Homo sapiens: one gene and its partners. The protein of the gene in region 1 interacts with the protein of each later gene in a biochemical or structural test. Each region holds a gene or a part of one and is shown in the gene's direction. Other genes may lie near its edges. The genes, in order: THRA, C1D, TRIP11 and TRIM63.

What was found.
Region 2: the proteins of THRA (region 1) and C1D form a complex in vitro, tested with the Homo sapiens proteins (one study listed by BioGRID).
Region 3: the proteins of THRA (region 1) and TRIP11 form a complex in vitro, tested with the Homo sapiens proteins (one study listed by BioGRID).
Region 4: the proteins of THRA (region 1) and TRIM63 form a complex in vitro, tested with the Homo sapiens proteins (one study listed by BioGRID).

What each region holds. Positions count from the first base shown.
Region 1 is NC_000017.11:40,086,949-40,093,523, forward strand, and holds the end of THRA (thyroid hormone receptor alpha), read left to right. Parts: intron 1-1,293; coding exon 1,294-1,552; intron 1,553-2,257; coding exon 2,258-2,508; 3' UTR 2,509-6,054; downstream 6,055-6,575. Other genes in the region: NR1D1 (nuclear receptor subfamily 1 group D member 1), read right to left, coding at 6,135-6,334.
Region 2 is NC_000002.12:68,052,968-68,060,004, reverse strand, and holds part of C1D (nuclear nucleic acid-binding protein C1D), read left to right. Parts: intron 1-6,867; exon of another isoform or gene 6,868-6,944; intron 6,945-7,037. UniProt on the Homo sapiens protein: Plays a role in the recruitment of the RNA exosome complex to pre-rRNA to mediate the 3'-5' end processing of the 5.8S rRNA; this function may include MPHOSPH6.
Region 3 is NC_000014.9:92,030,060-92,037,059, reverse strand, and holds part of TRIP11 (thyroid receptor-interacting protein 11), read left to right. Parts: intron 1-3,806; coding exon 3,807-3,868; intron 3,869-7,000.
Region 4 is NC_000001.11:26,057,616-26,064,652, reverse strand, and holds part of TRIM63 (E3 ubiquitin-protein ligase TRIM63), read left to right. Parts: intron 1-3,318; coding exon 3,319-3,487; intron 3,488-4,291; coding exon 4,292-4,387; intron 4,388-6,029; coding exon 6,030-6,263; intron 6,264-7,002; coding exon 7,003-7,025; intron 7,026-7,037. UniProt on the Homo sapiens protein: E3 ubiquitin ligase. Mediates the ubiquitination and subsequent proteasomal degradation of CKM, GMEB1 and HIBADH.

The sequences.
Region 1 (6,575 bases):
AAGGAGCAATTCCTGTAGGTCAACATACACAGATAACATACACAGACACACACACACACATGCATACACATACACCCAGCACACAGGCACACATGCAGACACATACACGGACACACACACACACCTAGCATACAGATACGTACACAGACACACATACACACACACATACACCCAGCACACAGACACACACACACCTAGTACACAAACACACACACAGATACATAGAAACACACACAGACATATACACCCAGCACACAGACACACACACACACACAGACACACACCCAGCACACAGGCACACACACACACACACCTAGCACACAGCCACACAGATACATAGACACACACACACAGATACAGACACACACACACACACAGACATATACACCTAGCACACAGACACACAGATACATAGACACACACCTAGCACACAGACACACACACACAGACACACCCAGCACACAGGCACACACACACACACACACCTAGCAGACACACACATAGATACATACAGACACACACACAAACACACAGGCACACACACACAGCATACAGACACACGCCAAGGTCTGGCTGCTCTAAGAAATCAGCCGGCTCCAAGTGCTCCCCTCCACAGCCCCTCATCCTTCAAGTCTATGCGGCCACCCAACTCCAGGCAGCCTGAAAGTTCTCATTTTCCAGAGCACTAGTGCTGGAGACAGGCTGCCCTACTAGCCATGTGACCTGGGGTAAGTTACCTCCATCCCCTGTGCCTCAGTGTTCCCATCTGGAGTGGGCTGGGGATAATGATGGGTGCTAACTCACAGGCATAATTTTTTTTTCTTTTTTGAGACAGATTTTCGTTCTGTCACCCAGGCTGGAGTGCAGTGACGCGATCTGGGCTCACTGCAACCTCCGCCTCCTGAGTTCAAGCAATTCTCCTGCCTTAGCCTCCTGAGTAGCTGGGACTACAGGCATGTGCCACCACGCCCAACTAATTTTGTATTTTTAGTAGAGATGGGTTTCACCATGTATGTTGGCCAGGCTGGTCTCGAACTCCTGACCTCAAGTGATCCACCCGCCTTGGCCTCCCATAGTGCTGGCATTATAGTCGTGAGCCACTGCGCCGGGCCTCACAGGCATAACTGTGAGGCTTAAATGGAATAGGGCATGCACATGGCCCAATACAAGGTCAGCCGTTCAGAGTCCATGGGGGCCTTGCGGGCCTCACGGCTCCCGTAGGACACTCTAGGGGAGACTCAAGGACGCGGGGAGGGGTATGCTGAGTGCTCCTGTGGCCCTGCCGCTCCACAGCTGCCTTGCGAAGACCAGATCATCCTCCTGAAGGGGTGCTGCATGGAGATCATGTCCCTGCGGGCGGCTGTCCGCTACGACCCTGAGAGCGACACCCTGACGCTGAGTGGGGAGATGGCTGTCAAGCGGGAGCAGCTCAAGAATGGCGGCCTGGGCGTAGTCTCCGACGCCATCTTTGAACTGGGCAAGTCACTCTCTGCCTTTAACCTGGATGACACGGAAGTGGCTCTGCTGCAGGCTGTGCTGCTAATGTCAACAGGTACCTGCTGATTAGTCGGGAGGGCTCAGAAGCTTCCAGGGGTCCCAGAGATTGGCTGGACCCTGGGCCTGTTGCTCAACTCCCTCCTGAATCTTCTTCTGGGCTACCTCTCTGTCACCTGGGCCATCCCCTATCCCCTGTTCCTTGCTCTGTCACACACTTCTCACTCGTTCCCCAGGCCCATCCCTTGCCTCCCCATCCCTGCTCTGTGCCTTTTCCTGTCTTTGTCTCCTTCCTTCTCGCTGCCCTGTCCCTCTGTCACTCACATTCCCCTTTGTTCCCCACTCCCCACTTTGTTCTCAGCCACCTTCCATCCCCTCATCCCTCCTCTGTCTCCCAGTCCCATCTCTTACCCCTCAGTCCCCTCCCTAACCCCATCTGCACCCCGCCTCTCTGACCACCAACCTCAGTCCTCCCCACTCCAAGGCTCCTCTCTCTCCCCCAGCCCCCGGCCTGTCCCTCTGTCCTCCTTGCATTGCCCCCTCCCCCCAGTACCCCCCTGCCCCTCTCCACTTCCCAGCTGCCTCCCTCTCCCTGTGCTTCTCCTGTCCACGTCTCTCAGGGGGAGCTTCTCCCCTCCCCTCCCCCAGCCTCTCTGCCTCTATCTCCCCTCTAGTCCTTTCTTCCCACGTCCCCACACCTCACCCTCCCCATCTCCAGGCCTTCGGCCAGCCCCTCGCCCCTCACGCCCCTCTTCCCTCACAGACCGCTCGGGCCTGCTGTGTGTGGACAAGATCGAGAAGAGTCAGGAGGCGTACCTGCTGGCGTTCGAGCACTACGTCAACCACCGCAAACACAACATTCCGCACTTCTGGCCCAAGCTGCTGATGAAGGTGACTGACCTCCGCATGATCGGGGCCTGCCACGCCAGCCGCTTCCTCCACATGAAAGTCGAGTGCCCCACCGAACTCTTCCCCCCACTCTTCCTCGAGGTCTTTGAGGATCAGGAAGTCTAAAGCCTCAGGCGGCCAGAGGGTGTGCGGAGCTGGTGGGGAGGAGCCTGGAGAGAAGGGGCAGAGCTGGGGGCTGAGGGAGACCCCCCCACACCCCTTCTCTCCTTCCTCTCGTCCTTGGATAGATTCAGCTCCCACACACACACCCGCACTGCCCAGGTCCCTCCTCAGACCTCCAGCCCTGGGACAGGGCAAACAACTGAACTTGCTATGGAAAGGACAGTGTGGGAGGCTGGGGGAGCTGTGTCCTGCAGTTCCCAGGACCCCATCCTCTCAGAAGGTAGGGGAAGGGCGGGAGGATTGAGAAGGGACAAGCCACCTTGACCGTAGGGGAAGGAGGAATGTGGGCTGGGGGAAGATGCCCTCAACTCACCCCCTACACACACATGAGAGAGAGCCCCCACCCAGTTCCTTGGCCTAGGTCTCCCCTCCAGGCTGAGGGCCTCTCTACTTCCCCAGATGCCTGGGTGCAAAGAACGGCTTGGCTTGGCTCCTCCTCTGGAGGTTAAAATTTATAGTCATTCTAACTGCACTTTGGAAACCAAGCAAGGGGAGAAGACAAATGAAGAAAAACTAGACAGAGAGAAAAATACAAAAAAGAGAGAGCGAGCGATAGAGAGAGATGATATTAAGTTATTAACTGAGGCTGACCAGAGGGGAGGACCCCCCCTTTACCACCCCATGCACTTTGCGAGCTGCCCCTTCTTCCCCCACATCAGAGAGAAATGCCCCCACACCAGAGCCCCAAGGGTAGGGCTGCCGATCAGAGCTGTGAGTTAACACAACAGGGTCCTGGCCACCCCCCTTGCCATACCCCGCCCTCTGTGCCCCTTTGGCACCCCCCAACCCTAGTATGTCCTCTGCTTTCTGCCACTCGTGCCCGCTGAGTTCCATCTACCTCTCATGCTGGATGCCAGCTGGCCCCTCACCAGCCTGCCCTGCTGCCCACACAGCTCCCCTTTAAGTGCCCAGCCCTAGGGGCCTCTCCCCATCCACCTCCTCCTTCCACACCTTGGCACCCACCCAGGAAAAAACTGTGGCTCCAACTCCTACCCTCCTTATATCCTGCAGTATTAGCTAGAAACCGGATGCTGCTGCATTGGTTGGGTCGGGGGTAGGAGGGCTGTGCGTGAGCGTCTCCCAGAACCCTCCACCCCTTTAGCACTCTGTTTCCCTGTTTCCCATCTGTCTTCTGGGCTCTCTCTAACCTCTGCCCTCCTCCCCAGCTCCTACTCACTGCACTAACTCTGGGCGGGCAGGTACCAGAATGGGGGTGTTTAGATAAGTGACACTTAGTTGGGGCCCCAGGGGAGGGGTGGTCGGTGCTCCTTTTTCTTTAAAGCTCTTTTGGCCAGCTGCCCCTCTGCCCCGGGACCCCTTCCCCTCTTCTTTTCTCTAATTCAGGGACTTTGGCTTGAGCCCCTCTCGCCCTCCTGGTGAGGGTGCTCTGTTGGTCTGCACTTGGGTGAGCTGTCCTCCTCCCCCTCCCTGTGGCTGCCGCCCACTCCTCAGGGGAGAGAGGGAGAGAGGAGGTGGTCCTCCCATGGGAGCAGGAGGTGGGGTGGGACAGAGCAGACCAGAGGGTGCTGGGCTCAGGGCTGCATGTCGGCAGGGATGGATGGGTGGACACAGATGCCCCCGGAAGCCATGGGGATTGGGGCAGGGGGTGGGGGGAGGGGTGCCAGGGCTTCCTGCGCTTTGCACTATTGGGGCAAAAATGTCTTAAGCAGTGGGGAACCTGCCACCCCACCCTGACCCTCAGCCTGCCACAGCCCCCTACACACACACACACACACACACACACACACACACACACACGGACATGCACACACGGACATGGGAAGGCAATGCTATGCTGCCCGTCAGGGCACTGTCCTTCCCCAATCGTTCAGGTGTTCCAACAGGGGTGGAGGGCCTGGAGGAGCACCCGCTGTCACCTGTGCATGTGCCTGTCCCACCCTGCTGGGGCCTCGGGCTGCCCGCGCTGTCTTTGTCTCTATCCTCTCTCTCTCTCCTGGAGTACTGAATCCTGTATTACTCCAGTCCCATGGGTAGGCCCTCTTGTACCTTCCTACCACGCCTGGGGGCCCAGTGGAATTCCTGACCTGTCTGCTGTCTTCCCCATCCCTCCATCCCCACCCCAACCCCTCCATCCCCATTCTCAGCCATGGACACGGCAGAGAAAAGGCCTTGAAGAGCCTTAGCCTCTTATAGGCACTTGGGACTCCCCCACCCTCCCCAATCATATGAGCTGTGATCCCATCCTCCCCGGACCCCTCCCTTCCCCCTCGGTGATGTGGGGTGTATGTGTGCGTTCCTCTGCGTGAATGTGTGAGTGAGTACACATGGTAGGGGAGGAGCCAGGGCGACTCAGGAGTGCCACGCACCTGCTCTAGAGCGGCAGCTGTCCCAGTCCCTGCTGTGGAAGTGGGGGACAGGGCCCTCTCCTGGGGGCCATTGGTGCTAATGAGGGGGATGGCCTTGATGTGGGTGCTCAGCATGCCTCCCCCAGTATTGGCCCGGGGCACTAGGGCAGGCAGGGTGGAGCAGCAGGTGCAGTATCGGTGGGAGGACGGGTTGCTGGGAATAGGACGAGGGGGCCAGGCCAGGACAAGGGGTTGCCAGAGCCATGACCACTACCCCGCCCCCACCACCCGCCTCTCCATCTCAGTATTGCCCCTCCCATCACTCATAACACACATACCTCATCCAGCCTCCTCCCTGCTCAGACTTGGGGAGGGTGGGGGAGGAGCCCCTACCCCTTCTCCTGGTGGCGGGTCTGCAGGGCTGGGAGAGGGCAGGGCGTTGTGAGAGAGAGACCGTCCATAAGGAGGACAGTAACTCCTGCCCTGGGAACTCCTGGGCGGGGGGGAGGGGGACACTGCCCAGAGGCGCTACTGAATGTATGAGAAGCTGGTGCTGGGCTGGGGGGAGGGGGGTTGTGGCCAGAAACAGGGAAGGAGGTAGGTCTCTTCCCCAGGGAGGGGTGGGACCGGCAGGGGTGACTTGAGGGGCTCCTACTCCTGCCCCACGTTGACAATCAGTATGTCTGTTATGTGCGATTTTTCACCCCGTTGTGTTTTGGGTCAGGATTTTAAAGAAAGATATTTTTATGGTAATTGTTGCTCGTCTATTTTACTATATATTTATGTAATAAATATATGATGAAAATAACCCCCTTGGGCACCCCCCTTAGACTTGTGTGCTGTTTCCCTATATCCTCCCATCTGCTGGCAGAGTACCCACCCCACAAACTGACCAGATGGAGAGGTGGCCCCCCCCAGCCTTGGCAGTATTTCCACCCCACCCCCCAAACGAGCACACACCACAGAAGCCAGCTCAGCTGTGAACTATTGGATTTGAGACAGGAACAGAACAAATCAGAGGGCCAGGGGAGGGTTGTGGGGGAGACAGAGTGGTTTAAATAGGGGAGGAGGGGAAGTTCGGTGATGGGGGAGGGAGGCAGGTATTTACAAGAAGGCTCAGGGGGCCAGAGGCTCATCTTGGAATATTTTATAACAATATAAATAAGATTCTGGTTTGCTTTTCCTTTTCGTCTCGTAAAGGAGAGAGAAGTGCAGAGTTCGATTCTGTACAAGGGGGCAGCGGCAGAAGGCCGGCCGGGCGGGTCACTGGGCGTCCACCCGGAAGGACAGCAGCTTCTCGGAATGCATGTTGTTCAGGGTCCGCAGGTCCGGCAGCTTGAGCAGCAGCTTGGTGAAGCGGGAAGTCTCCAAGGGCCGGTTCTTCAGCACCAGAGCCCGAAGAGCCCGCAGCAGCGTCTCCTGGAGCTGCTCCACCGAAGCGGAATTCTCCATGCCCGAGCGGTCTGTGGGGAAGACGACAGCAGTGAGGCGGACTCCCCGAGCTCCTCTGAGGAGGAACCGGAGGTCTGCGAGGACCTGGCAGGCAATGCAGCCTCTCCCTGAAGCCCCCCAGAAGGCCGATGGGGAAGGAGAAGGAGTGCCATACCTTCTCCCAGGCCTCTGCCCCAAGAGCAGGAGGTGCCTGAAAGCTGGGAGCGTGGGCTCAGCAGGGCTGGTCACCTCCCATCCCGTAAGACCACCTTC
Region 2 (7,037 bases), on another chromosome or scaffold:
ATAAGTTTTTGATGTCTGTTAGTCATCTAAGTGGAGATGTTGAGTAGGCAGTTGAATATGTTCATTCTGGACTTCAGAGTGGTCATTGCTGGAAACAGACGTTTGGGAATTGTCAGTGAACAGATGGTATTTAAAGTTGTGAGACCGGAGACAGTCGTTAAAGGAGTAAATGTAGACAGAAAAGAGAAGGGGCACAAGGCCTGAGTCCTTAGGCATTTTAACAAGTTGGGAAAATGAGGAATAACCACCAAATGAGACAGACTGAGCAGCCAGTGAGGGACAAGGACAATTTTGAGTCTGGTGTTGTAGAATTTACAGTAGAGTAGTATGTTCAGTTTTGTCAGGTGCAGCTGATGGATCAGGTGAAATGAAGATTGACACCTTTGGATTTATCAAGAACTTAAGGAGTGTTATTGATAGATATGTGATAATGTTAAGTCAAGCAGATAGTTGCACACCAGTGTGATAACTGTATTACAGTTATATTCAGAGAACCTTGGGAGCAGAGGAAGAAGAGACCACTTTTGTTTGGGAGGTATGGACACCTTTATAGAGGAGGGAGCATTTGAGGTGGGTTTTAAAGGATTGATAAGTTTCACTAGGCCAAGAAAATGGAGACTGTTATGAAGAGGAGGTTGATATGATTTGGGTATGTGTCTCCTCCAAATCTCTTGTTGAAATGTCACTTCCAGTGTTGGAGGTAGGCCTAGTGGGAGATATTTGGGTCATGGAGGCAGATTGAATGTCTTGGTTTGTCCTTGAGGTAATGAGTTGAGTTCTCACTCTATTAGTTCACTCCTAGAGCCGGTTGTTTAAAAGAACATGGAAGCTCCTCTTTCTCTTGCCACTTCTCCTGCCCTGTCACATGCCTGCTCCCCCTTTATCTCACCAAAAGCAGATGCTGACACTATGCTTCTTGTGTAGCCTGCAGAACTGGGAGCCAAATCTAACCTCTTTTCTTTATAAATTACCCAGCCTCAGGTATTCCTGCATAGCAATGCAAAACGGAGGAACACGGGTATTCCAAGTAGAGGGAAAGGACTATGACAGGACCTCAATTCCCTTCCTTCATGGTCACATCTCCCAGTTAGCTGTTTTAAAGATGCTTTTGTCAGTCCTCTTTCCTCTGTGGCCACTTGCTAATGCCCCATGTTCGGTAGCTCCAGGCCTGCTGAATGTTGCTAAGGAAATCGGAGATTCTAGTCACGTGGAGTAGTGACAGGAACAGAAGTTGAGTGTGATGTTGGGGAATAGGGTAAAGATGGGAGTTAAGGCTGGAAGGGTTAGAGGAATAGATTTTCAGGGAGGAACAAACCTTATATGTTGTATTAAAGATTTTGTCCAGAGAGCATCCCACACAAATCCACTGATGGGATTTGTGAGGGATGTTCCTCCTCCATTCGATTTGAGTTCCATTCTGCCGAACTTTACCACTTACCAGCCCTGTGACCTGTTTCTGTTGTGCCATCTGTAAAGTGAAGCTAATATTAGTGCCCAGTCGTAGAGTTGTGAGAACTCTCTCTGCCCGCACTACAGTTTTTGTCTGCTTAATTCATCTCTGTCATCGAGTGCTTTCTTGAGGAAGCTTTCTGTCTTCCCTCAGATTGTCATGTACACTAGTTTATAGTCTCATAGCATGATTTATTTCTTCATATTACTGTTGTAATTTTATATTTCTGTGATTCTTTGATTAATGTCTATCATCCACACTAAACAGTAAGTGCAGAGCAGGCAAGTTTTTGCTCACTATTATCTTCCAAGTATCAGGGCTGCCTATCATGGAGGCTAATTAAATATCTATTGAATAAGAGAGTCCTTAGTGTCTGGCATGTGGTAAATGCTCAGTAAATATTACTCATTTACATGACATTTTGCAATAAGTGCTGAGGAGGTATCAGGGATAAATAAAGGAACTGTCAGGCAACTGACAGAGGACCTGTTGCAGTTGGGTAGCATTAATTTATGTCTTTTGTGAATTTCGTTAGGAATGAATGTTCAGTAGGCCTAGAGCTAGAATGGTTGGCTGGGGGCAGAAAGAGAAGATGAGAACTTGCAAAAGCATCTTTAAACCAGTTGACTGGGAGGTATGGCCATGTAGCAAGCAGGCCAGAGGAGGCTTTTGTACCATGAGAATAGAGGAAAATAGCCGCCTGGTGGCTAGACAATTTAGGTGTAGAAAACACATTTATATGGTTCTTTGAATGTAACAGTGGTAAAGAATATAGGTTTAGTTGTTGCTGCTAAGTAGGGGGAAATGACATTTTTATCTGGTATGTTTGAGAATAAAGTAAATTTCAAAATTTGAGATGATCGAAGTTTTTATTTATAAACTTAAGTATTATTATAATATGTTACATATTTTATTCTTTAAAAATTGTAATTCAGAGAGTGTAACAAAATGTACTTCCTCACTTTCTTGCTTTTTGTTTCCCAGAAGTGACCACAGTTAACAGCTTCTTTTGGATCCTTTAAGAAAACTTACATGCATATACCATACAAATATGCCTCCACATTCATATATCTTTTTTTCTTCAAAATAAATGGGATGAGCTGGGCGTGGTGGCTCACGCCTCTAATCCCAGCACTGTGGGAGGCTGAGGCAGGCAGATCACCTGAGATCAGGAGTTTGAGACCAGCCTGGCCAACATGGTGAAACCTCATCTCTACTAAAAATACGAAAAAAAAAAAAATAGCAAGGTGTGGTGGACGCCTGTAATCCCAGCTACTTGGGAGGCTGAGGCAGGAGAATCACTTGAACCCAGTAGGGGAGGTTGCAGTGAGTTGAGATCGCACCACTGCACTCCAACCTGGGCAACAAGAACGAAACTTTGACTCAAATAAATAAATAAATAAATAGGATGTATTATACATGCTGTTCTTCAACTTTTGTTCACTTAATATATCTTAGGAATCTTTCTAAGCTGTACCTCGTACCTTTTCACTACTGCAGAGTATTTTAATAGGTGGGCATATCATAATTTATTTAACCAGGTTCTAATAATGGATGTGTGGGTTGTTCTGTTTTAAAGTTTACTGTTTTAAAGATCATTGCAGTGGAAGTCCTTAAACATTATCTTGCGCTAAAATATACTTTGAGAAGTAAAATTGCTAGGTCAAAGCATGTGTACATATGTGATTTTGAAGCATAGTGCAGATTACCTCACAAAAATGCTAAACTAATTTATACCCTGACTAATAGTGAATGGGAGGCTGTTCTCAGCTCACCTTTGTCCATTTTAGTACTATTAATCTTTTTAATTTTTCCCTATTTGACAGATGAAAATGGCATCATATTTTAGCGATTTATGTTTCCTTAATTATCAGTAAGGCTGAGTAGCTTTCTTTATGCTTATTGGTCATCTGGATTATTTGTGAACTGTTGATTTTCTTGTTTATTTTTCTTTTGGGTTGTGTGTACTTTTTTTGTTATTGTTAAATTGATTCATAGAGGCTTTAAAAAAATCTTTGTGTTGCATATGTCTTTTTTTAGTTTTTTATTTGACATTAGTCTTGGGTGTTTGTTTATTTGTTTATTTTGCCTGCATTTTTAAGGGCCAGGTAAAAATACAAGAAATTAGGATTTTTTTTTTAAAGAAGGGAATTTGCTGGGCTCGATGGCTCACACCTGTAATCTCAGCACTTTGGGAGGCTGAGGTGGGCAGATCACAAGGTCAGGATTTCGAGACAGCCTGGCCAACATGGTGAAACCCCGTCTCTCCTAAAAAAATACAAAAATTAGCTGGGCATGGTGGCACGCACCTGTAAAAGGCAGGAGAATTGCTTGAACTTGGGAGGCAGAGGTTGCGTTGAGCTGAGATTGAGCCACTGCACTCCAGCTTGGGCGAGACAGCAAGACTCTGTCTCAAAAGGATTTTTGTGATACTCTTGAAATAAATAGACACTCTAGAATGTGAGCCTTTTGTTGGAAATGTTAGTAATACAAACTTCATTTGAGACTATATGTTCAGCAACTATCACAGATGTAGTGAGCACCCAGTAACCTTCCTCTCCCTCACTCCAGTTATATTTGGAATTGAAATGAGATGTAATGGAGCTGCTTAAATATTCTAGACGACACCTTCTCTTTAGTTATTCTCCTATATATGAACGGAGTTGTATTCTAAAAGCTAGTTTGTGAGTTAGCCATCTAATTTCACTATAGAAATAATGTACATAGGTTCTTATCTTTGCTCTCAAAGTTGTAATAATTTGTGGAGGCTACTTTTTTTTTAAGCAAATTCAAAATGTTACATAATTTTACCCCTCTATACTTCAGTGTGCATCCTCAAAAGACAGGGAAATTTTCTTATATAACTGTATTGCTATTATCATAGATGACAGAATTATCAATAATTTGTTGGTGTCATCTAGTACTTTGTCCATGTTCAGATTTCTTTCTCACAGAACTATCTTTTTCCACTTGGTTTATTTGAATCAAGATCCAAACAAGGTCTGTGTATTTCATTTGGTTGTTACATCTCTTAAATCTCTTCTTCCTCTGTCTTTCTTCCCCCACTTTTTTTTTTTTGCTTCATGCTGTTGACTTGTTATGGAAACCTGGTCAGTTATCCTGTAGAGTACTGTATTTCTCACTCCATATTTGTTTGCTTTCTTGTGGTGTTAATTTGTTCCTCTATCCTTTGGATTTCCTATAAAATGGAAGTTAGCTCTGTAGGCTTAATTGTTCAGATTCAGCTTTTTTGGGAGTTGGGAATGCTTTGCAGATGGTGCTGTGTATGTTATATTGCCTCACATCAGGAGGTTCATAATATGTGCATTTCACCTACTTTTAGTGATCTGTTGGTGGTCATTGACTAAACCTACAATTTCATTAGGCGTTGCAAAGTCGTGATTCTTTTTTAAGTTGTCATTTCTTCTACATTTGTTAGCTAGAATTTGAAGTCTAGTTCTGTTACTTGGGAACCTGATAATCAAAATAAGCTTGTTGTGGGAAAGTATTGTCAGAGCAACAATATTTTTGATGCTAGGAATGCATCTTAGTGCAATAGTCTTTTTTTTTTTTTTAAAAAAAAAAGAAAGGATGTGGGCCTTGCTCTGTTGCCCAGGCTGGAGTGCAGTAGTGTAATCATAACTTACTGCAGCCTCGAACTCCTAGACTCAAGTGATTCTCTCACCTCAGCCTCCTGAGTAGCTAGGACTACTGGTGTATGCCATCACGCCCAGCTAATTAAAAATATTTTTTTTTTTTTTAGAGATGGGTCTGTCTGTGTTTCCCAGGTTGATCTTGAACTCCTGGGCTCAAGTGATCCTCCTGTCAGTCTCCCAAAGTGTTGGAATTACAGATGTGAGCCATGGTGCCTGGCTGTGATTGTCTTTTTAATGTTTCAACTTGGTTTGGCTGTAGCCCCCAGATATTTAGTCAAACATGAATGTAGGTGTTGCTGTGAAAGTATTTTGAAGCTATGATTAAAATCCATAATCAATTAAGTAAGGGAGATTATTCTAGATCATCTGGGTGGGCCTGATTCAATCAGTTGAAAGGCTTTAGAAGCAGAGCTGAGGTTTTCCTTCCAAAAAAGAAGAAATTCCACTTGTAGACAGCAGTTTCAGCTAGTAGCCAAGAGTTCCAGCATGAGTTCCTCCCTTCATAGCCTGCCCTATGTAAACCAGTTTCTTGCCATAACTCTCTTAATATATATCTCCTACTGGTTCTGCTTCTCTAGTTGAAACCTGACTGGTGCAAAGGGTAACTCCTCTGATGCTTCTGTTCTCCAGCTAAATGGGATGGGAAGCGGTAGTAAGGGTCAGAGAACTTGCATTGTTTAGGGTAGCCATATAATTTTTTGTTCAAACTGGGACTTCTGAGAAAGAAAGGAGCTGAGTTGATGGCAAGCTGAAACAACAGGCGTAAGGTGGAACTGTCTTGGGCAAATTGAGAGTTATAGTCACCTTGTGTGTCAGCCACTGGGGATACAACATGAATATGACACAGCCCCTCAAGGAGCATGTAGTCAAAGGAGAAGTCAAGTAAATAAAAATACATTAAGAGATAGTGTTTTAAGTGACATGACAGCTTATAGTTGTTGTATTTGTCCAGACAGAGAGCATAGAAGGAGAGCATGCAGAGAAGTCTTCACTGGCCGAACTGGAACCTATTTTTTACCTCCAAAGATAAGCAGCGTTTGAAAAAAGTGGAGTTGGAAGGGCATTTCAGGCTTAGAGAATCACACAGGTGAAAGTTGAGAGTGAGAGAGCACGGCACATTTGGAAAACTGCCATCATGGCCACAGCTCTAGGATTGGAAGAGGGGAGCCATGAAAGATGAGGTTAGGCAGACAAGCAAGGGCCACATCATAATGGGCCTTGCATCTACGCTGAGGGGTTTGGAACTGTCTTCCATGTGGGAGGGAACTGTTGCAGAATTTTAAACAGAGGAGTACCATGACCAGACTGTTTAAAGCATATTTTGTAATATTCTAAAACTGGGAGTGGAGAAAAATTGATAATAGGGACACTACTCAAAGGCTGTTGAAATAATCTAGTCAGTGAGAATAGAGGAAAGCTTGTGGTGTAAGGAGATTAAGGGAGCCATATTGACAGGACTGATTGGATTTGGGGTGCCTCCCAGGTTTCTGCCTGGATTGGCCACCCTGAAGTGGAGAATTAAAGGAAAGAGGTAGCTGATGACTTCAGTTCTGTATGTGATGCTATGCACTCTTGTTTTCTCCTATCGGTACTTTGGCTTCTGTATAACCAGTGAGAGGAAGGACTGAGTGGCAGTAACATCTGTTAGGGTTACTGGGCAGCATCCCCGCAACCCAGGTACTCAGTCTCAGCCACACCTTACTGAGTGGTGAAGAGAAGCAAGTTTTCTCATGCCCTCTCCGTCTGTCTCTACCTCTGCAGCCAGTGTTTTAGAAGGAGTATGTGGAAGGGCAAGGAGTACCTATAGAACCCCGGAGGAGGGTGAGGAGCAGAGCTGGGTGAGTTCTTTTCTTCTTTGGAAATTTTAACATGTACAACTTTAGGCATGTTCTTTAACTTCTTTTGGCTCAGTTTATTCATCTGTGAGGTTT
Region 3 (7,000 bases), on another chromosome or scaffold:
ATTGATTTTGTAAATTTTTAAAAATAGGGGTCTGGCCAGGTGTGGTTCATACCTGTAATCTCAGCATTTTGGGAGGCTAAAGTGGGAGGATAGCTTAAAGCCAGGAGTTGAGGACTAGCCTGGGCAACATAGGGAGATCTCATCTCTACAAAAAGTTTTTAGCTGGGCATGGCTGCATGTGCCTGTAGTCTCACCTACTTGGGAGGCTGAAATGGGAGGTTTGCTTGAGCCCAGTAGTTAAAGGCTCCAGTGAGCTGCGATTGCACCACTGAACTCCAGCCTGGGTGACAGAGACGACCCTGTCTAAAAAAATAAAGGGAATGGAGGGTCAGAGTACAGTTCTTTTATTCATTGAACAAGTATTTATTAGTGTTTACCCTGTGTCAGTAATGAAAAATAAAACAGTTCCAAAATAGCACTATGTGGACAACTTGAAAGCCATCCATATTTACAATATCAGAAGGTTGCAGTTTTACCTAACACTACTGATTTATTCAAGGTTAGGAGCTTGGGCTTTTAAATCAGAGAGACATGGGTTGAAATTCTGCTTTTGTGCATTACAAGTTGTGGGATTTTTGGCAAATTATTAGAAATTAACCTCCAAAAGCACAGTTTCCTTATATGTTGAATAGGGATAATCATACCTATTGTGAGGTTGAGAGGATTAAATGAAATCATGAGTGTAAAATGCCTGGAATTGTGTCTACCGAATCGTAAACATTAATGAATGGTAAATGTCATATTTGCCCTTATTGACAAAGTCAGAATATTTTTGTCTGCATAATATCTCCCCTTTGTACTTAAAAAGGCCAAGTTTTTCTTGTTGGGGGAGGTGTGGAGTTTGCATGGACTTGTAAAATCCCTCTTTAAAATAGTTGCTGCTTTTAACAATTACCTTCCTAAACAAATTAGATTATAACTTGTCCTCTTCAGAGTAGCAATTAAACAGTCCTTTCATAGTTTCAAGCAAGATGTACAACCAACCACAGATGTAACCCTACCTGGTGATTTTCTAAACAAGAGTGTTTGTCACTGTAATTACTGCATGCTTCTTTTGATTTAAACCAAGCTTGTCCAACCTGTGGTCTGCAGGCCACATGTGGCCCAGGATGGGTTTTGAATGAGACCCAACACAAATTCATAAACGTGCTTAAAATGTTATGAGTTTTTCTGGCTGGGCGCGGTGGCTCACACCTGTAATCCCAGCCCTTTGGGAGCACTTTGAGGAGGGCCTCAGGATCACCTGAGGTCAAGAGTTTAAGGCCAGCCTGGCCAACATGGTGAAACCTCGTCTCTTTACTAAAAAATACAAAAATTAGCCGGGCATGGTGGCGCAGGCCTATAGTCCCAGCTACTGGGGAGGCTGAGGTGGGAGAATCACTTGAACCCAGGAGGCAGAGGTTGCAGCGAGCTGAGATTGTGCCACTACACTCCAGCCTGGGCGACAGAGCGAGACTCTGTCTCAAAAAAAAAATAAATAAATAAATAAATAAAAAATGAGGTTTTTTGCGATTTTTTTTTTTTTAAAGCTCATTAGCGATTGTTAGTGTATTTTATGTATGGCCCAAGACAGTTCTTCCAGTATGGCCCAGGGAAGCCAAAAGATTGGACACTCCTAATAAACTGTAGTCCAGATAAGTTATTTTTATATTAAAGAGCTGTGAGTAATGAAAAAAATACTAGTACTTAGAAAAAAAATCTAACTCTGGATGATGATTTTCTTTTCTTTTCTTTTTTTTGAGACCGAGTCTTGCTCTGTCGCCCAGGCTGGAGTGCAGTGGCACGATCTTGGCTCACTGCAGCTTCTGCCTCCCCAGTTCAAGCAATTTCTCCTGCCTCAGCCTCCTAAGTAGGTGGGATTACAGATTATAGGCACCTACCACCATGACTGGCCAGTTTTTTTTTTTTTGTATTTTTAGTAGAGATGGAGTTTTGCCATATTGGCCAGGGTTGTCTTGAACTCCTGACCTCAAGTGATCCACCTGCCTTGGCCTCCCAAAGTGCTGGGATTACAGGCATGAGCCACCGAGACCAGCCAGATGATGATTTTCTAACAGCATTAGTGGTGCCATGTTGACACTGCTGGGCTCTCACTCTACTTTTAAATGAAAATGTACAAAACCAAGGGCCATGCATGGTGACTTACACTTGTAATCCCAGCACTTTGGGAGGCTGAGTGTGGAGGATTCCCTAAGGCTAGGAGTTCGAGACCTGCCTGGGCAACACAGTGAAACCTCATCTCTCCAAAAAAGTAAAAAAATTAGGTAGGTGTGGTCGCATGTGCCTGTAGTTCCAACTACTTGGAAGGCTGAAGCGAGAGAGTTTGAGGCTACAGTGAGCCATGATCACACCACTATACTCCAGCCTAGGTGGCAGAGTGAAGTGAGACCCTTTCCAAGAAAATTAAAAAATAAAGATGAAAATGTAGAAAACCAGACTGAGCTCATTCCCATTTTTAATAAATTGTGTCTATGTTACTTTAAATAAGTGTTCTCAGTGTATTTTTCTTCGTTTATAGGTCACTTATTATTTGATAGTATTGAGAGCAGAAGTTAGTGACAGAGCAGGAGCACTGTTGTTATCTCAGACAAACAGTGCCACTTTAAGTTCCAGCTCCCTTTCCTTTTTTTTTTTTGGAGACAAGAGTCTCACTCTGTAACCCAGGCTGGAGTGCAGTAGCACAGTGTCGGCTCACTGCAACCTCCACCTCCCAGGTTCAAGCAATTCTCCTGCCTCAGCCTCCTGAGTAGCTGGGATTACAGGCGTGTGCCACCACACCCGGCTAATTTTTGTATTTTTAGTAGAGACGAGGTTTTACCTGTTGGCCAGGCTGGTCTCAAACTCCCGATCTCACGTGATCCGCCCACCTTGGCCTCCCAAAGTGCTGGGATTACAGGCGGTGAGCCACCGTACCTGACCTCCAGCTCCCTTTCTAGCCTCATGCATTTCAAGGAAGTCACTTCTCTTCTAACTACAAGCAGCCAGAAAAAGCAGACAGTAAAACACATACAGAGGGAGTGCTCGGGCACAAAGGGAGGTGGGGGTAAAGTCTCTTGGGTAACTGCCAAACTTCACTCTCATACAGTGGGCCCCAGTAAAGCAGTGGGCCTTAGAAAGCACATTCCTTTCCCTTCAGGTGCACTAAAATAGGGAAGCTAAAGCAGACTCGGGGGGTATGCCTGCAGCTCTAGAATAAATGGAACAAATACACAACTCTCCCTCCCAGATAAGCACTACAAAAAAACACAGAAGCAGTCTAAGCCTCTAATAAATTCTCCCACCCTAAATCCTTAAAAACTCTTAGTCTGGAAAAGAGTGTGCCTCTAACCTAACTCAGCCGAACACCCCTCTCAGGTTTGTTTTCTCTAAAATAAACCTGTCTTAACTGGCAAGCCACCCTTTGTGTTTCTCTCCTCTTTCTTTAATTCTTACAGTTAGAAATAAGGCCTAAAGCCCCAGTTGAGTAAGCTTCATCTAAAATTATAGCAGCATTAGCCCACAGAGAAATAGTTTTAATTTCTAAAGCTTAATTTCCCACAACAAAATTCTAATGAACATTTCTAAGGGGTAAAGGTAGACATCCTAAGATACAGGGCATAGGCAAAAAGAATGACTTTTATGACAATGAAGAACATTAGTGTCAGTGAAAAGTTGTTATGGAAATAAAGCGATTTGTTTCTTCTGAATGCTTTCATATCAGCCTACTATTCTGTGTAAACTCAGTGAAATATATTTTCTTGAAAATACCTATTTATTACTTCATATGGTATTGATTAAATATTCAATATTTGTTATTTCTCTTGTAGCAGAATTACCTGATTCTAGGACAAAGGAAATTGAAGCCATTCATGCAATCTTGAGATCAGAGGTAAGAAAAATCAAAGACTACTTAGATTTTTCTTTTTTGAAGTCATGAAGGTTACTCAAACATTACTTTGATCCTTTCTTTTTAAATGTACTGCTTAGCACTTTTTTTCTCTTCTTGTTTAATTTTGATTGTTTTTTGAGCTTTTATCAACCTTCTGTAGATGAAAAATATATTTACCTGTTACTGCAGTTTGCTATTCTTTAATATTCCCATCTCTATTTCTGTATAAGTAGGAAAACTGCCAAATGTAGAAATAATAGTATCAATAATTTATCATAATCCAGAGTTTACTGTGTTCTAACAGCATACTAAATTGCAGTGGCACATTTATTTAAGAATAATTTTTTTTTTTTTTTTTTGAAACGGGGTCTCACTCTGTCACCCAGGCTGGAGTGCAGTGGCACTATCTTGGCTCACTACAACCTCCACCTCCTGGGTTCAAGCAATTCTTCTGCCTCAGCCCCCCGAGTAGCTGGGACTACAGGTGCACGCTACCACACCCAGCTAATTTTTGTATTTTTAGTAGAGACAGGGTTTCACCACATTGGCCAGGCTGGTCTCAAACTCCTGACCTCGTGATTCACCCGCCTTAGCCTCCCAAAGTGCTGGGATTACAGGCGTGAGCCACCACGCCCAGCTAAGTATAATATTAAGAATGCAATTCTGTTTAACCTGGAGCTTTTTAAACACTAAAATGATAATAATATTTGGATACAAAAAAGTTAAGAATATAGGAATAGCAGCCAGGCACAGTGGCTCATGTCTGTAATCTGAGCACTTTGGGAAGCCGAGGTGGGTGGATCACTTGAGATCAGGAGTTTGAGACAAGCCTGGACAACATGGTGAAACCCCATCTCTAACTAAAAATACAAAAAAATTAGCTGGATGTGGTGGTGCACACCTGTAATCCCAGCTACTCAGGAGGCTGAGGCAGGAGACTTGCTGGAAACTGGGAGGCGGAGGTTGCACTGAGCCGAGATCACGCCATTGCATTCCAGCCTGAGTGACAGAGAAAAACTCCATCCAAAAAAAGAAAAAAAGGATACAGGAATAGCAAATTAATTTTAATGTTTTATTCATTATTAGGGTCTAGATTGGGCGCAGTGGCTCATGCCTGTAATCTCAGCGCTTTGGGAGGTGGAGGTGGGAGGATGGCTTGAGGCCAGGAGTTTGAGACCGGTTACAAAAAATAAAGATAAAAAAATTAGTCAAGGTGTGGTGGTGGGTGTCTGTAGTCCCAGCTACTTGTGAGGCTGAGGTGGGAGGATCACCTGATCTTAGGGCCCAGGAAGTCAAGGCTGCGGTGAGCTGTGATCCTGCCACTGTATTCCAGCCCGGGCAACAGAGTGAGACCTTGTATCAAAAAAAGAAAAAGACATTTTAATAATTTAAATACAGCAAATCCAAATTTTTATTTAATTTTTTTCTGGTTTTGAAAGCATAAAGACTCAAAATAAGCAATGTTCTTTGAATTCAGTGAACTGCTTTTTAACCCTTAATTGTATAACCTGGAATATCTTTATCTTGTAAAATATTGATTCCAAAGTTCAGTTACCTCTCTAATAGATTTCAGGTTATTATTACTTCTAGTTCTTTTCGTTGTGGTTGTTGCTTTGAGACATGGTCTTGCTTTTTTGCCCAGGCTGGAATACAGTGGCACAGTCATAGCTCACTGCAACCTTGAACTTCTGGGCTCAAGTGATCCTTCTGCTTCAGCCTCTTGAGTAGCTGGTACCACAGGCATGCAACACCGCACCCAGCTAATTTTTAAAGATTTTTTTGTAATAGGCCAGGCACGGTGGCTCATGCCTGTAATCCCAGCACTTTGGGAGGCTGAGGTGGGCAGATCACTTGAGGTCAGCTTGGTCAACATGGTGAAACCCTGTCTCTACTAAAAATACAAAAATTAGCTGGATATGGTGGTGGGCGCCTGTAATCCCAGCTACTTGGGAGGCTGAGGCAGGAGAATCACTTGAACCCGGGATGTGGAGGTTGCAGTGAGCCAAGATCGTACCATTGCACTCCAGCCTAAGCAAGACTCCATCTCCAATAAATAAGTAAGTAAGTAAGTAAATAAAAAAATAAATAAATAAATAAAATTTTTTGTAGAGACGATGTCTTGCTCTGTTGCCCAGGCTGGTCTCAAACTCCTGGCTTCAAGCAGTCTTTCCACCTTGGCCTCTGAAAGTGCTGGGATTACAGGCATGAGCCACATGCCCAGCCTGGTTCTTGATTGTGTCATTAAAAGCAATACTTTTGAAAATTTTAATGGCTCATGATTTTATTGAAGAGATGATGGCTGTCATCTTTGCTCTATAATTTCAAAAGCATGTTTATTCTTAGATTTATAAATGCCAATTAGAATGATCAGTCCACTGAGTTTTTTTCATTTCTGTGTCATCTGTTTCCTCCCAGTTGCCTTTGTGTACACACCTGCTTTCAGCCTTCTACATATGAACATATCAAGTAAATGTTGGTGTACAAATATACATGATGAAAGAATACTGTCACATGGCCAGGCATGGTGGCTCACGCCTGTAATCCCAGCACTTTGGGAGGCCGAGGTGGGTGGATCACCTGAGTTCGAGACCAGCCTGACCAACATGGAGAAACCCTGTCTCTACTAAAAATACAAAATTCGCTGGGCGTGGTGGCACATGCCTGTAATCCCAGCTACTTGGGAGGCTGAGGCAGGAGAATCACTTGAACCTGGGAGGTAGAGGTTGCGGTGAGCCAAGATCCCACCATTGCACTCCAGCCTGGGCAACAAGAGCGAGACTCTCAAAAAAAATAAAAAATAAAAATAAAAAAAGAATACTGTCATGTATCTGCTTAGCAAAATGAAATGGTTTAAGTCCTTGTCACAAAATAATGCAGAGTGAAGTATTTTCCTGTTGAATGACTAATTGATCTGAAAGCCATATTTCTTTTTTGTTCTTAAAAATATATTATTCACTCATCAATTCTTTTTTTTTTTTTTTTTTTTTTGAGACGGAGTCTCGCTCTGTCGCCCAGGCTGGAGTGCAGAGTGCAGTGGCGGGATCTAGGCTCACTGCAAGCTCCGCCTCCCGGGTTCACGCCATTCTCCTGCCTCAGCCTCCCAAGTAGCTGGGACTACAGGCGCCCGCCACT
Region 4 (7,037 bases), on another chromosome or scaffold:
TGGGTACCTATTGTGTGCAGGCGCTGTTCTAAGTACTTTCAGGCATTTTTCCTATCTGCTTCTCATAGTAACCCGGGAAGGCATTCCTGTCTCCATTTTACCATGAGGAAATGGAAGCTCAGAGAGGATCAGAGATTTGTCCAAGCCCACACAGCTAGCAAGTGGTAGAGCTAAGAGAGAGAGGGTGTGAGAATATTTTTTATTTTTTTAATTTTTTTTTTTGAGGCAGAGTCTTGGTCTGTTGCCCAGGCTAGAGGGCAGTGGTACGATCTTGGCTCACTGCAACCTCCACCTCCTCGGTTCAAGTGATTCCCCAGCCTCAGCTTCCCGAGTAGCAGGGACTACAGATGCGTGCCAACGTGCCCAGCTAATTATTATATTTTTAGTAGAGACAGGGTTTCACCATGTTGGCCAGGCTGGTCTCAAACTCCTGACCTCAGGTGATCTGCCCGCCTCAGCCTCCCAAAGTGCTGGGATTACAGACGTGCACCACCACACCCAGCTAATTTTTGTATTTTTTGTAGAGACAGGGTTTCACCACGTTGGCCGGGCTGGTCTTGAACTTCTGACCTCAGGTAATGCGCCCGCCTTGGCCTCCCAAAGTTCTGGCATTACAGGCGTGGGCCACCGCGCCTGGCCGGCCGGTGAATATTCTTAATTGCTGAGCTAGATTGCCTCTCATGTTGCTAGAGCACAACACTACAAAATGCAAACATATTGTTGATCATAAGGAATAATAAAATCAATTCCACACCAATGTTAGCCTACCCAGTGCCGACCTATGAAGAGCATGTTATATGTGAACCTTTGAGGCCTTTCCGCATAGTTGAATGACAATGACAGCTGCCCTCTATTGAGGGTCTGCTCTGTGCCGGGCACTCTACATTCATTATAGACAATTTCTACAGACAGATTGCAGTAGTTCTGGGAGGAATCCCACAGGCAAGAGAGGTGAAATCACTAGTCCAAAATCACAAAAATGAATGTAAGAGAACAATCTGGATATGAACCCCGATGCCAAAGTCTGAGCTTGGGAGGGTGGGCATCTGGGAGGGCTGCGGGCGCATGAACCAGACCCTCAGGCTCTTGCCTCACCTCTGCACTCCCTGCCATCCCTTTATCAGGGGATGGAGGCAGGTGGCAATGGCAGACCCCTGCCAGCATAGGGACCCTGGGGTAAACTATGCAAAAAGACAAGCCTGGAAAGGGGCATATTTAAGAACTTCAGAGGACAATAGAGCCCAGGGTGTGATCAGTCATGTAAGGCTGTTTGGAGGTGAGGCATTGACACTGATGGGAACAGTCACCATTTGACATTTGCAAGATGCCTGTTCTGTTTGGGGCTGGGAATCGAAGGTAGTGTTGGCTTTCAATGAGTGTATAGTCTAGCCGGAGACAGAAGACTCAAAAAATCGAATCTACACCAGGCATGGTGGTATGCACCAGTTGCAGCTACTGGGGAGACTGAGGTAGGAGGATTGCTCAGCCCAGGAGTTCGAGGCTGCAGTGTATCTGTGAATCGCTGCTGCACTCCAGCCTGGACAATATGGTGAGACCCTGTCTCAAAACAAACAAACAAACAAACAAACAAACAAAGGCTGGGTGCTGTGGATCACGCCTGTAATCCCAGCACTTTGGGAGGCTGAGGTGGGTGGATCACATGAGGCCAGGAGTTTGAGACCAGCCTGCCCAACATGGTGAAACCCCATCTCTACTAAAAAATACAAAAATTAGCTGGGCATGGTGGTGCACGTCTGTAATCTCAGCTACTCAGGAGGCTGAGGCATCAGAAACTCAGGAGGTGGAGTTTGCAGTGAGCTAAGATCACACCACTGCACTCCAGCCTGGGCAAAAAATCAAAACAGAACAACACAACAACAAAAAAATCCCCCCCAGGCCCCAATGAATCTAGGTTAGGAAATGACTGATGTCCCAAGAGAAGCACAAATAACAGGTTGGAGGTCTCAAGGAAGAAAGGTAGTTCTAAGCATATGTGTTAGGGGAGAAAGTAGAGGAAGAGACTTGGGCCTTTGAAAGAATCTCTGGACTAGAAGTCAGGCTTGTGCTGGGCTGTTGGACAGCCCTGGGCTACCCACTCACCAGTCACCATGACATGGGGCATACACACTGCTCCTTCTCTGAGCCTCAGGGGCAACCTCATGGCTCAGAGAGGGTCAGAGGTTTATCCAAGGCCATACAGCTAGAAAGTGGTGAAGCTAAGAGAAAGAGAGAGGGTATGACTGACTCTGTGGTGAATATTCTTTTTTAAAAAAATTGTTTTCTTATGGAGAATGTTAATAAATTCAAGATGGTGAATATTATTGATTCCTATGCTAGTTATTAATTTATTCTTTCTTTCTTTCTTTCTTTTTTTTTTTTTTTGAGACGGAGTTTTGCTCTTGTTGCCCAGGCTGGAGTGCAATGGTGCGATCTCGGCTCACCGCAACCTCTGCCTCCTGGTTTCAAGTGATTCTCCTGCCTCAGCCTCCCGAGTAGCTGGGATTACAGGTGCATGCCACCATGCCTGGTTAATTTTTTTGAGTTTTTAGTAGAGACGGGGTTTCATCATATTGGTCAAGCTGGTCTTGAACTCCTGACCTCAGGTGACTCTCCCACCTCGGCCTCCCAAAGTGCTGGGATTACAGGCGTGAGCCACTGCGCCCAGCCTTATTGATTTATTCTTTCTACCTTTGTTTAATTACCACCTCCTCTATGCCAGGCACTGTACAGTGTAGGCACAGGGGTGAAGAAAACAGGCAAGTTTCCCTACCTTGATGGAGGTTACAGTCTGGTAGATTAAATATAGAATTAAATGAGGCCATCAGTATAAATTTCTCAGCTCAGAGCCCAGCCTGCAGTAACCAAAGCTAAGGTGACTATAATTAGAGCAACTGAACTCTAGGCTCCTCTGCCCTTACTTGCTGTATGACCTTGGACGAGTCAATTCACTTTTCTGGAGCCCAGTTTCCTCTTCTCTAAAACATCTCCAGGTCTGACTCTGGAATTCTATGGCCCTTTCTGTGTCCTTGGCACTGGCAGAGCCTCAGGCTAACTCCCTCTTAGGATGTGGGGACAGATTTGGTGTCATTGGCTTCCCAAGTCCTTGGTCCCCAGAAGATGAAAGATTTTAGGGCAGCCAAACACTGAGGGCCCAGGGCATAAATCTGGAGATTCACAGACACACTGCAGCCTCGAATTCCTGGGCTGAGCAATCCTCCTGCCTCAGCCTCCCCAGTAGCTGCGACTGGTGCATTGGAGCTGGGGAGGGGGATGCAGGGACACAGGACCCCCATGACTTGTGACTGTTCTCCACTGCAGTCGGCCGCTGCAGAAGGGCAGTCACCCCATGTGCAAGGAGCACGAAGATGAGAAAATCAACATCTACTGTCTCACGTGTGAGGTGCCCACCTGCTCCATGTGCAAGGTGTTTGGGATCCACAAGGCCTGCGAGGTGGCCCCATTGCAGAGTGTCTTCCAGGGACAAAAGGTACTGTCTCCAGCCACTTTTACCCCCAGCCTGGGCCTGCTGGGCACGGCCTGATGATTCAGGAGGCAGATTTGATCCCTGTAGATCTGCTGATCTGGCCTTTCAGGAATAGTCTCTCTGGAGGGACTTCCCAGGCCACAGGGACAGCAGCCCTGGCCTTCCTAGGGGAGGCAGCTGAGCTCATGGTTATACTTAGAGCCACTCGAGAGCACCTGGGTGTGGCCACAGGGGAGCGGTCAGACGCCCCAGCCAGGCCACTGGGGTCCTCTCAGGCCACGGCTTCTCCATCCCCCAGACACCTCTTCCTGTGCCTCTCACCTCTTCTCCAAGACTTCACATTCCCCCACAGCAGGAGGCAGCTTAGAGCCTTCTCCCTGGGTCCCTGGGCCTGTGAGGGCCCACCACCCTGTCCGTGCAGTAAGCCGTAGCCACCCCCTTTCCATACTCTCTCTTCCCTACTCCCCACTCTTCTCTAGGTCTCTCTCTTCTAGACGTCTCCAACTCTATTTCTTTTTTTGTCCCTTCTTTCTTAGAAACAAGCCCCTCCTCTGTCAGTTCCTTGCTGTGTGTTTTGGGCAGCTCACTTGCCTGCTGTTGGCCTCACCTGTAAAATAAGGGATGCAGTATCTTTCTAATATCCTCTACTCTGGAGCTGAGCTATACCCGAAAGAGGGGCCAGATCCCTACTGGAGGCTCTTTCTAGCAGAGAGGGGAGGGAGGAAGCCATGTTGCTGCCATGCCCCAGTGGGTAGGCCCTGAGGCTATTTGTGTCTCTCCTCTCCTGACCCCCACACCCCCATCTAGACTGAACTGAATAACTGTATCTCCATGCTGGTGGCGGGGAATGACCGTGTGCAGACCATCATCACTCAGCTGGAGGATTCCCGTCGAGTGACCAAGGTGAGCGGACAGAATAGTCCTGCCTGGGGATTTGGAGCTTTCCAGGGCAGCCTGGTCTCTGGGGAAGGCTCACCCATAGGTTGTGGCTAAAGGTTGGGGCCCGGAGCCTGGGGCGGTCAAGCAGGGATGGCAGGGGAGGGACTAATCCATTCATCCAGTCTCTCAACAAATGCTTCTTAAGCACAGCTGTGTGTCCGGCCCCACCCAAGATGTGGGGGATGGAGGAGTGAACCAGACAGACGTGGTCCCTGAGCTCAGGGAGTGTCCCATCAATAATTCTCAGTATTTATTCAGCACAAATTGTTTTCAGAGCACAGTTCTTCAGTGTGCTGTAGACCAACACTTCCCAAACTTTGAAGTGCGTGAAAATTACGCTGGGATCATGTTGAAATTCAGGTTTTGATTCAGTTGGTTTGGAATGAGGCATAAGAGCTGCATTTCTAGCCAGTTCCCAGGATTTGCCCAAGCTGCTGGGTCCACAGACCACATGTTGAGTAGTGAGACTGTTGAGGGCAGAAGGGAACTTTTCTATCCCTGAAAAAAGCTTCCACGATTTTCCATGTTCACTTGGGGTAGGGATCTGGAGATGAGATGAGGGGAAGGGGTCATCATAATTGCTAGTGGATGAAGAGTTGGGCGAAGGGTAGGAAGGAGGGGAACATTGTGATCACCCACGAGAGGCTCCCGGTCTGATGAGATGCTATTGTCACACCCATTTTATAGAAAAGAACATAGAGAGAAGGGAGCTTCGGTTGAGGAGGGTGCTAGGAAAGGAGCTGTTTTTCCACCTCTCCTAGGACCAAATGATGCAGAGCTTCCCGAATCCAGTCTTGGTCCTGAAAGGGAGGGAAGAGTGTGAACTGGGACATATGGGAGGCCCAGGAAACGTTAATTTGTTGAAGGTCACACAGCTAAAAGGGAAACACAGCTAAAAGGCAACAGAGAGCTGGGCACAGTGGCTCATGCCTATAATCCCAGCACTTTGGGAGGTCAAGCTGGGTGGATCATGAGGTCAGGAGATCGAGACCATCCTGGCCAACATGGTGAAACCCCATCTCTACTAAAAATACAAAAAAATAGCCAGGCGTGGTAGCGTATCTATAATCCCAGCTACTCGGGAGGCTGAGGCAGGAGAATCGCTTGAACCTGGGAGGTGGAGGTTGCAGTGAGCCAAGATCGCACCACTGCACTCCAGCGGGGGCAACAGAGCGAGACTCCATCTCAAAAAAAAAAAAAAAAAAAGGGCAACAGAGAAAGACAGGGCAGATCCCACATTGGGTGACTGTTGCATTGGTCTAAGAGGTGATGCTCCAATGACCAGCTGAGGTTGGGGGACAGGGGGAGGGTGCAGGAACAAGGAAGAACATGTTGTGTCATGTGACCCTAGAGCCTCTATTTTGGAAGAAGGGGCTAGCTGTTTTTCAAGGCATCATCCTCCAAATATCACTGGCGTACTAAATAGCTGTGAGGCCAGATGAGTGTTTTCTTCTTGTTAAGTCTTTGTTTCTTCTTCTGTAGTGTGGGGATGTATGTAGTGAGATCTCTTCTAGCTTTAGATTCCTTGCTACTGTCCTAGGAAGGCAGTGTAGTGGGCAGGGAATAAAGACCCTACAGAACGTGACCACAAGACTTCCGTCCTCAGGAGAACAGTCACCAGGTAAAGGAAGAGCTGAGCCAGAAGTTTGACACGTTGTATGCCATCCTGGATGAGAAGAAAAGTGAGTTGCTGCAGCGGATCACGCAGGAGCAGGAGAAAAAGCTTAGCTTCATCGAGGCCCTCATCCAGCAGTACCAGGAGCAGCTGGACAAGTCCACAAAGCTGGTGGAAACTGCCATCCAGTCCCTGGACGAGCCTGGGGGAGCCACCTTCCTCTTGGTGAGCAGGACTAGAAGGGTCTGGGTGGGGTCAGTTCAACTCTACAGCTCTAAGGTTCAAGTTATGCTTCCCCACTGACCACCCATGGGCCCTTGGAAAAGCCATTTAAACCTCTGTGAGCCTCAGTTTCCTCATCTGTCAAATGGGCATGTAACACCCCCCACCTTCCTCTTACTGATTTTATGATGATAAGATAAGAGGATGTTTATGAAATGACTTTGTAAGCTGCAAAATACAGTGTCCCATCTACAGACTATTAATTGAGCCCCTACTGTAGGCCAGGCACTGAGGTGGAAGACAAGGAGATAAACCAGACACAGCCCTGCCCTCAAAGAGCTTGTTGGGGAGGACAGAAAAGGCTCAGTTATAAGACTTCATAGTTCAGTTCAATAAAAATGTTCTAGGCTTCTACTGTGGGCCAGGCTTTTTGCTAGACATTAGGTATGAAAAGGTGGTTAGGATTGGGGAGTTCAGGGTTTAGGAGTTTTGGGATTGATACCCCTAGAATCCAAGCTTCCTGTCAAGACAGTGGGTCCTAGGGTGATGACCAAGACCTGTACAGACCACAGACAGAGGGAAAAGTTCCAGATTCTGCTCAGTTTGGGGTGGGGAGCAGGTCACAACTGGGCTAGGGAATGGCACCAAATATCTACCTACAACACCTAGTTCACTAGTTTTGCTGATTTCCTGCGGTTACCTCTTCTGCGGTCCTAATCCTTTGTTCTCTCTCCCCCTGCAGACTGCCAAGCAACTCATCAAAAGGTCAGTGTCTTC